Linked DNA regions of Homo sapiens: region 2 is linked to region 1. A link means that fine-mapping ties the variant in region 1 to the expression of a gene that starts in the linked region. Tissue or cell type: whole blood. Region 1 holds a variant in brackets; the other region holds the start of a gene. All regions are shown on one strand. Distances are between the middles of the regions.

Region 1 (5,205 bases):
GGGCAGATCACGAGGTCAGGAGATTGAGACCATCCTGGCTAACACGGTGAAACCCCGACTCTACTAAAAATACAAAAAATTAGCCGGGCGTGGTGGCAGGTGCCTGTAGTCCCAGCTACTCGGGAGGCTGAGGCAGGAGAATGGCGTGAACCCGGGAGGCAGAGCTTGCAGTGAGCCGAGATCTCGCCACTGCTCTCTAACCTGCCGACAGAGCGAGACTCCGTCTCCAAAAAAAAAAAAAAAAAAAAAAAAAAAAGAAAAGAAAATCAAGAAAATCAAGTAAATTTCTTACTGTTGGCAACTAAATAGTGTTTGCAGCATTTTTATCATGCAGTTAATTCCATCCATTCACCATATTTTTCTAATTCAGTTGTCCTACATCTAAGTACATGGTTTGCTTTTTGTTTTTTGGTTGTTTTTTTTTTTTGAGACAGAGTCTCGCTCTGTCGCCCAGGCTGGAGTGCAGTGGCACGATCTCAGCTCACTATAACCTCCGCCTCCCGGGTTCAAGCCATTCTCCTGCCTCAGCCTCCCGAGTAGCTGGGACTACAAGCATGTGCCACCACGCCCGGCTAATTTTCTGTATTTTTAGTAGAGACGGGGTTTCACCATGTTAGCCAGGATGGTCTCCATCTCCTGTCCTCGTGATCCACCTGCCTCAGCCCGTCGAAGTGCTGGGATTACAGGCGTGAGCCACAGCGCCTGGCCAGTACATGGTTTTAATGTTGTCTGTCTTCTGTGCTGTTCCTGTAAGTTTGTTATTAAAATACATTAAACTCAACCGGGCACAATGGCTCACGCCTGTAATCCCAGCACTTTGGGAGGCCGAGGTGGGCAGATAATCTGAGGTCAGGAGTTTGAGACCAGCCTGGCCATGGTGAAATCCCATCTCTACTAAAAATACAAAAATCAGCCAGGCATAGTGGCACATGCCTACAGTCTCAGCTACTTGGGAAGTTGAGGCAGGAGAATCGCTTGAACCCGGGAGGCAGAGATTGCAGTAAGCCGAGATCGCGCCACTGCACACCAGACTGGGCGACAGAGCAAGACTCTGTCTCAAACAAATTAATAAAATAAAAATAAAATAAAATACATTAAACTAATAAATAAAATAATCCAACTTTAATAACAACAATAAAAAATGGGAGGAGACTGTGTTGAAACTAGGTGTTGGATTCATGGAAGTTAAACTATTCTCTATTGTTATTTATGTTTAAATTCCCATAAGAAAATTTTTGAAAAGAAAAAAAAGCTTACATGAGTGAAGAGAGATGAAGCCTGAGATAAACTTCCAAAACTTCTCCCATATCTGGATGGCAAATAAAACTACATCAAATGGTCAGGCGTGATGGTTACCCTCTAATCCCAGCTACTTGGGAGGCTGAGACGGGAGGATACCTTGAGCCCAGGAGTTCAAACTGCAGAGAGCTATGATTGTACCACTGCACTCCAGATGGGGCAACAGAGCAAGACCTCACTCAAAAAATAACTAAAACCAAAAACAAACAACTACATCAAATGTCTAAAGAATGAGAACTCATGCCTGTAATCTCGACACTTTGGGAGGCCAAAGCAGGAGGATCGCTTGAGCTCAGGAGTTCAAGACCAGCCTGGGCAACATAGGAAGACCCTGTCTCTACATAAAATTTAAAAATTAGCTAGGCGTTGGCCAGGTGCAGTGGTTCACGCCTGTAATCCCAGCACTTTGGGAGGCCAAGGAGGGTGAATCACAAAGTCAGGAGTTCAAGACCAGCCTGGCCAAGATGGTGAAACCCCATCTCTATTAAAAATACAAAAATTAGCTGGGCATGGTGGCGGGTGCCTGTAATCCCAGCTACTCAGGAGGCTGAGGCAAAGAATTGCTTGAACCTTGGAGGTGGAGGTTGCAGTGTGCCAAGACCATGGGTGCCACTGTACTCTAGCCTGGGCGACAGAGTGAGACTCTGTCTCAAAAAATAAAAATAAAATACAAAATTAGCTAGGTGCTCACCTGTGGTCCCAGCTACTCAGAAGGCTGACGTGGAAG[G/C]ACTGCTTGAGCCCAAGAGGTTGAGGCTGGAGCAAGCCGTGATGGCACCACTGTACTCTAGCCTAGGCGACAGAGCAAGATCCTGTCTGATTAAAATAAAAAACTGTCTAAAGAATGAAAAAAGAGATGTAGAACGAAGAGCTGCTGCTGTAGAAGGCAAAATCTGCTTATGTGATGAATAAGACATAATCTGAATTAAGCAATAATTAAGACTAAAAAAACAATAGTGTTCATTCACATCAACAGGATATAAAAGGAAGCAATAAGTAAGGCCTGTGGATGGTGAGTACTGAGGGAGTATGTGCCATTTCTATAGCATGTAGCAGATGGAGAATTCATAAAGAAAATGTCAGCATTTCATTTTAGCAAGTCTTTCTACTTCTCCCCACTGAGAGATTTTCTCTAGGTAAAGCACAAAAACTAACAATAACTAATTCCCAGATTTTCTACTCACTAATTATGTAACAGGCAAACTACTACTCTACCTGTTTGAATGTCATATATAAAATGGGGTAACTCTATCTGTCTTGCAAGATATTACAAAAATTAGAAACAAATCACTAACACACTGTGTGATTTGTACATGGCACAGAGTAGGAACTTAATAAATTGGAGTCAATATTGTTATTACTGAGTTTATATGAAAAAAAGTCATCATTAGAGTCAGGAATGATATACGGATGCTCACCATCACCATCTCTATTCATTATTGAATGGGAAGGCTTAGACAAAAGCAGTAAGACATAAAAAACAAAGAAGGTGTAATTAAAAAGAAACAAAACTTTCCTAAATTTAACCAATGTGGCTGTCTAGTACCCAAGAAAATCTAAGTACCAAACATTTAGCATTTAAAAGAATTCAGCTGAAATGAAGATCAATGTACTAAAATTAACAGTGTATCTATATTCTAACAGTAGAGAAAGGAAATACAATAATTAACAAAACTACTTAGGGTATGGGAGGCTGAGGCAGGAGAATCACTTGAACCCAAGAGGTGGAGGTTGCAGTGAGCCAAGATGGTGCCACTGCACTCCAGCCTGGGCAACACAGCAAGACTCCATCTCAAAAAAAAAAAAAAAAAAAAACAAATCTAGGGAAAAGAGATCTTTAATGAAAAACTTATGAAATGTTATTGAAGGGTATAAATAACCCAAACAAATGGAGTCATAGATCATATCTCTGGCTAGAATGACTCAATATTGCAAAGTCAGTTCCCCCATGTCGATCTTTAAATTCAATTCAATTCCAACAAAAATGTCAATGGAGTTTAAATAAGATGAACAAGGAAGGAAAATCTGCCACACTAGGCAAACGCTTTTTTTTTTTTTTTTTTTAGATGGATCATCACTCTGTCACCCAGGTTGGAGTGCAGTGGCATGATCTCGGCTCACTGCAACCTCTGCCTCCTGCACTCAGGCAATTCTCCTGTCTCAGCCTCGTGAGTAGCTGGGACTACAGGTGCGCGCCACCACACCCAGCTAATTTTTGTACTTTTTTGTAGACATGGGGTTTCACCATGTTGGCCAGGCTGGTCTCAAACTCCTAACCTCAAATGATCCACCCACCTCAGCCTCCTAAAGTGCTGGGATTACAGGCGTGAACCATGGCATCCAAGGCATAAGCTTCTTATATAGTAATTAAGACCTGGGAATTGAGCAGATCAATGGGAAAAGAATAGAGATCCTGTACATGACCCAAAACTTGATTATATTAGAAGCATAATTAAATACGGTACCAGATGTGTTGGGGCAATTAGTTATCCACATAGAAAAAAAATCAGAGCCATATTCACACCACACACAAATATAAATTTCTGGTAGATTAAAGACCTACACATGAAAAGTAAATCCTTAAAATGTTCAAAAACAGATATACAAGATTCTTAATGACCTCAGCATAAAGAAGGATTTCTTGAATAAGAATTAGCACAAATCAGAAAAAACATTGAAACTTTTGATGACTTCAAAATTGAAAACTTCTATACAATTTTAAAAATTCATAAACAGTTAAAAAATAAGCTACAGACTGCAAGTTTTTTTGTGAAACATACATATAGGACAAATAACTGGTACTTAGTATATACAAAGAATTACAAACCAAAAAGAAAATGACAAGTAAGTAATTAGAAAACTTGCCAAAGACTAAAAATTAGAAACTCAAATGACTAATAATAAAGATAAATTCATCTTCTCCTAGGAATTAGGAAAATACAAATTAAAACCAAAAATTTCATGCCACACCCAACAGACCACCAAAAACTTTAAAAAATGTCTTACAATTTCCATGTACTGATATATCAATAAATTGTTAATTTTATTGTTGAGTTATACACCATTGAATAGATAAAGCATAATTTATTCATTTATGTGTTGAGGAATATCTGGGTTGTTTCCCATTTATTATTTATTTTTATTTTTTTTAGATATGGGGTCTTGTTATGTTGCTCAAGCTGGCCTCAAACTCTTGGACTCCAGGATCCTCCCACCTCACCCTCCCGAATAGCTAGGAACTATAGGTGTGTGCCACCATACCCAGCTATTTCCAATTTTTAACTATTACAAATAGAGCAGGTATAAAAAATCATATATAAATCTTGACATGAACATATGGATTCATTTCTCTTGCATAAAGACATAGAGGGAAGAATGGGTGTCTCTTGTGGTAAAAATATGTTTTTTTTATTTTTTTATTTTTTTGAGAAAGAGTCTCGCTCTGTCACCCAGGCTGGAGTGCAGTGGTGCAATCTCGGCTTACTGTAACCTCCACCTCTGGGTTCAAGCAATTTTCTGATTCAGCCTTCTGAGTAGCTAGGATTACAAGTGCACGCCACCACACCCAGCTAATTTTTGTATTTTTAGTAGAGACAGGGTTTCACCATGTTGGCCAGGCTGGTCTTGAACTCCTGACCTCTTGAACTCCTGACCTCAGGTGTCTGCCCACCTTGGCCTCCCAAAGTGCTGGGATTACAGGCGTGAGCCACCACGCCTGGTCTAATTTTTTTTTTTAAGTCTGTTTCAAAGTGGTTGTACCATCTTTCTTATCAGTAACATGAGAATTCTAACTGCTCCACAGTCTCATCAACATTTGGTATGGCCAGACTTTTTGTTTGATGGGTTTTTTTTCTTGTTGTTTTTGAGACAGAGTCTGACTCTGTCACGCAGGCTCGAGTGCGGTGGTGC
Region 2 (5,116 bases), 79 kb after region 1:
ACTAAAAATACAAAAAAATTAGCCAGGCATGGTGGCAGGCACCTGTAATCCCAGCTACTCAGGGGGCTGAGGCAGGAGAATCGCTTGAACCCAGGAGGTAGAGGTTGCAGTGAGCCGAGATCATGCCACTGCACTCCAGCCTGGGTGACAGAGCGAGACTCCATCTCAAAAAAAAAAAAGAGTGAAATTTGAGTAAAGACCTGAAGGAGATGAGGGGACAGACAGGCTATGCTCTTACACAGCTTTGTAAGAGAAAAGTAACTCAGGAAGAGGAAACAAGAGCATAGACCCTGAGGCAGAAGTGTGCCTAGTGTGCTCAAGGAACAGCCAGAGGCCAGTGTGCATGTTAGGGGAAAAGGGTGCCACAGATCTAGAGCTTTAAAGCTAAGATTGGTTTGGCTGGGCGCGGTGGCTCATGCCTGTAATCCCAGCACTTTGGGAGGCCGAGGTGGGCAGATCACGAGGTCAGGAGATCGAGACCATCCTGGCTAACACAGTGAAACCCGTCTCTACTAAAAATACAAAACATTAGCCGGGTATGGTGGGGGGTGTGGTGGGGGGCGTGGTGGGGGGGCACCTGTAGTCCCAGCTACCCAGGAGGCTGAGGCAGGAGAATGGCATTTACCCAGGAGACAGAGCTTGCAGTGAGCCGAGATTGCACCACTGCGCTCCACCCTGGGTGACATAGCGAGAAAGAACAACAACAACAAAAAGTAACATTGGTTTTTATTTTGAAAGAGAAAGGAAGCCATCTCCTGTCTTAATTTTCCATTAAAAAATATTAGGCATGCTATTATTTTTTTTTTTTTTTTGAGACAGTCTCTCGCTCTGTTGCCTAGGCTGGAGTACAGTGGCACGATCTTGGCTTACTGCAAAATCCGCCTCCTGGGTTCAAATGATTCTCCCACCTCAGCCTGCCAAGAAGCTGAGATTACAGGTGCCTGCCACCACGCCTGGCTACTTTTTGTATTTTTAGTAGAGACGGGGTTCCACCATGTTGGCCAGGCTGGTCTCAAACTCCTGACCTCAGGTGATCCACCTGCCTTCGCCTCCCAAAGTGCTGCGATTACAGCATGAGCCACCGTGCCCGGCCAGTCAGGCATGCTATTTTTATTTGTCAAATTTTTTTAAAACTTTACATTGTGAAGCTCTGCCAAGAGCAATGGCTCACGCCTGTAATCCCAGTGCTTTTGGGAGTCTGAGGCCAGAGGATCACTTGAGGCCAGGAGTTCAAAACCAGCCTGGGCAACATAGCAAGATCCCATCCCTACGAAAAAAAAATTGTGAAGCTCTACTAATCATATAATGGACACAAAGACAAATGGAACTTCAACTCTGAAATTTAACTTGTTAGGAGTTCATCAGGCCTTCAAGAAAAAAGTTATCTTTTCTCTCAACTCTCTGGAGAACAGCAACAGGGTAAGAAAAATACAACTAAAAACTGAACTGAATTAATCTAACCGGCCACTTTTCACCACTATTTAAACTTTTTGTCTTTCCCGGCGCGGTGGCTCAAGCCTACCACTTTGGGAGGCCAAGGCAGGTGGATCACTTGAGCCCAGGAGTTCCAGACCAGCCTGGGCAGCAAGGTGAAACCCGTCTCTACAAAAATCAGCCAGGAGTGGTGGCTCATGCCTGTACTCCCAGCTACTTGGGGGACTGAGGTAGGAGGACGGCTTGAGGCCAGGAGGCAGAGGTTGCATTGAGCCGAAAAGGAACCACTACACTCCATTCTGGGTGACAGACTGAGACCCTGTCTCAAAAAACAAAATACAACCTTTTGTCTTGATACCCCAGCAACAAAAAGGGGGGCGGGGGTGGGGGGGGAATATTGGTGGAACAACAACAAAAAAAAGCATTAGGAAGAAGAGCCACAAATAATTCAACTGCAAATCTATCTAAAAATACAAGAAAATGCTAGGAATTTGTGATATTCCTGAAGTGAAACCTGTCACTTTCCTCCTTCCTTGAGTCTCCACGTGGCTTACGCATATCAGACAGGACTCAGGCTTCTCAATCTTAGTTATCTATTTGAACAACATTATGTACAAGGATATTCATCCAACTGGGATCTGAATTCAAACTTTTCCACTTTTCTTTCTTCCGTTTTAACGCAGTTCTGGGATTGTTATTCGGTCATTTCTCATCATTATCCAATGACAATTCACTCTAAGTCAGTATTCCTGGTAGTTCCGAGACTTAATGGCCACAAATGTTGAAAAATGTTAGCTCTACGGGAAAACGAATCGAAGCGTTTTCAGGGGCTCGAGTAGTTATGAGCTTAGTGTAGGCCCAAGTTTTAAGCTATAGAAACATCTCCCTGTATGTGCCAACTCAAATCCCCGTCCCTGTAAGAAACCTGGACACCAGCATGATTTTAAACACTTCTACACCTCTCCGTCCTATTTTTCCATGCTCCACGCTCGAAGGAAAACCGCCACCCAAGAAACACACGGAGCTAGCCACCCCGAAGCACTGGAAGGGCGCAATAGTTTTTAGGTCACCCCGCAAAGGCCACAGGTGGCGCCACCCCCCTGCCCCCGCACCGCCGCCCTCCGCCCCGCGCCCCCAGCTTCTCTCCAGCAGCGCACACTTGGAGCAGTCCTTCCCGCGGCCATCCGACCCTGACCCATCGTCCCCGGGACCGGCTGCCGGGCGCGAGGAACCCAGGCCGCGGGGCCTCCTCGCGCCCGCCCGTGCGGCCGCCACGCCCCCTCCCCACAGGCCGTCCGGGCCGCCCGCCCCCTCGGCCGGGAGGTGGCCTCACCTCGCACGGGCCTTGGCGGGGAGGGCGCCCACGTCTCCGCCCGCCGCCCGGGCCCACGGCCGCTCGGCTGCGGCTCGGCCCCGACGGCCGGCGGCGGCGCGCTTCTGGGGGCGGGCTTTTCTCGGCCGGGGCTTCCCCGGGGCCGAGGGCTGGGAAGCAGGGGGGACTGGGACGGGGGAGGGGAAAGGGGCTTGGGAAGGAGGGGGGAGAGGGGAAGAAAAGGGGGGAACCAAACCCGGAAAGGGAGAAAAGGGGGGAGGGGAAAATCAGAAGGGGAAGAAAAGCCCAGAGTCCGCCCCCCGCTGCGGCTGCGCGCTACGTCACTACGTCCGGCGTTGTCGTCACCTCGTCCTGCGTTCCGGCCGTCCCTGCTTCCTGGCTTCCCGCGTGCCCCTCAGCAGCCCTGCGGGGCCTACCGCCTGCCGCACGCACTCCCGCCGGCGCGCGCGCACTCGCACTCGCTCGCTCGCCCTCTCCTCCTTCCGCGTTACCTGTGTCAGGACACCAATCCGGAGTCACTGGGAGCCTCGGTCCTCCTTAAACCCTTCAAGTCTGTCAGATAGAATACCCTGGATTTCAATATAATACTAATAGTGATCATTCTAAAGTAATTTCCATTTACAGAGCACTTTCACTTAGGGCAGTAACTCCTGTACCAAAAGAACGTACACTCGGTATTTGTTGCATACGTGGATAACTATAGTTGAGCAGGTAAATGTCCATTTTACGTAAAGATGAAAAAAACCGACCTAGGAGGAACTCAGTCTGTCCTATTAAGATCACATTCTTACCATCATCCCCTCTCTAAGATACAGTTCTCAAAAATCGTCTTAAATGTCCAGCCTCCCCCGTTTTGTCCATTCTAGGCAGAATCAATTTAGTTATTGATTATGTGTGTGTGGATAATTTACTGACCAAACTCCCTCAAAGAAGCAATGTAGTCTTTTGTAGAATTCGACCATTAAATATTTACCTTGTGACAGAAACTGCGGTAGGCAAAAAAAGTCAAATAATTATAGTACAATTTAAGTGCTATAATAGAAAGGTTTAAATGTGCTATGGAAACACAAGGAACAGCAATTCGTTCTTAGCGGTAAAAGAGATTGAGTAAGTTACAGAGAAACTACAGGTGAAACTCCAGCTAATCTTGAGACTATAAATAGTTCACTAGAGAGGTAAGAATGGAGATTCCAGCAAAGTCATAGAGGCATGAAGTTCATCTTTCCTTCAAGGATGAGCAAGTTCCAGGTTGGTTGGCGTTTTTTGTTTGTTTGTTTGTTTGTTTTATTTATTTTGAGATGGGGTCTCGCTTTGTCACCCAGGCAACTAGATTGCAGTGGTGCAATGTCGGTTCACTACAACCTTCACCTCTCAGGTTCAAGTGATTCTCCTGCCTCAGCGTCCGGAGTAGCTGGGACTACAGGCACGCACCATCACACCCGGCTATTTTTTGTATTTTTAGTAGAGACGGGGTTTTGCCATGTTGGCCAGGCTAATCTCGAACTCCTGGCCTCAGGTGATCCACCCGCCTCGGCCTTCCAAAGTTCTGGGATTACAGGTGTGAGCCACCTTGCCCAGCCCTCTCTCCTGGTCATCACTGCCTCCTGCCCCCAAATTCTCTCAACCCTCTAGAGAACAACAACGGGGGAAGAAAAATACAACTGAACTGAACTGATCTAACCTGCCACTTTTCACCACGATTTAAACTTTTTGTCTTGGCCGGGCGCAGTGGCTCACACCTAGCACTTTGGGAGGCCAAGGCAGGTGGATCATTTGAGCTCAGGAGTTCCAGACCAGGCAGTGATGACCAGTAGGAAATAATAGCTAATATTTGTATTATGTGTATGTAAGTACAATATAAAATGTGTAGCATTCTACATCTATTGTTAGTATCAAATCCTCAATACAATAGGTACTATTATTATACCTGTTTTATAGATGAGGAAACCTGAGGCACAATAATGAAACCAAAGTTCCAGATTTTTTTTTATTTTTTTTGAGACGGAGTCTTGCTCTGTCGCCCAGGCTGGAGTGCAGTGGCATGATCTCAGCTCACTGCAACCTCCACCTCCCGGGTTCAAGTGATTCTCCTGCCTCAGCCTCTCAGGTAGCTGGGACTACAGGCATGTGCCACCACGCCCGGCTTATTTTTATTTTATTTATTTTTTTATTTTTCTTTGGTATTTTTAGTACAGATGGGGTATCACCATGCTGGCCAGGCTCGTCTCGAACTCCTGACCTCAAGTGAACTGCCCACTTCAGCCTCCCAAAGTGCTGGAATTACAGACGTGAGCCATCACGCCCAGCCTACAAGCACATTTTTAAGGGCAAAAAAGAAGGAGACAGGGA

What was found. PIP is the estimated chance that this variant, and not a neighbour inherited with it, causes the effect.
Region 2: R3HDM2 starts here. The variant in region 1 is fine-mapped to the expression of R3HDM2 in whole blood (TOPMed, PIP 0.98).

Annotation. Positions count from the first base shown.
Region 1 is chr12:57,349,152-57,354,356 of GRCh38, forward strand. The region is part of intron 2 of R3HDM2 (R3H domain containing 2); the gene reads right to left. Among named protein-coding and RNA genes, the nearest start is that of R3HDM2, 79 kb to the right of the region's middle. The variant G/C (reference allele first, on the strand shown) is at 2,027.
Region 2 is chr12:57,427,953-57,433,068 of GRCh38, forward strand. R3HDM2 (R3H domain containing 2) reads right to left here and starts at 3,091. Exons shown (of 24, transcript NM_001394031.1): 1 at 2,768-3,091. R3HDM2-DT (R3HDM2 divergent transcript) reads left to right here and starts at 3,164. Exons shown (of 2, transcript NR_185976.1): 1 at 3,164-3,478. RefSeq lists an enhancer at 2,233-2,342 and a silencer at 2,523-2,992.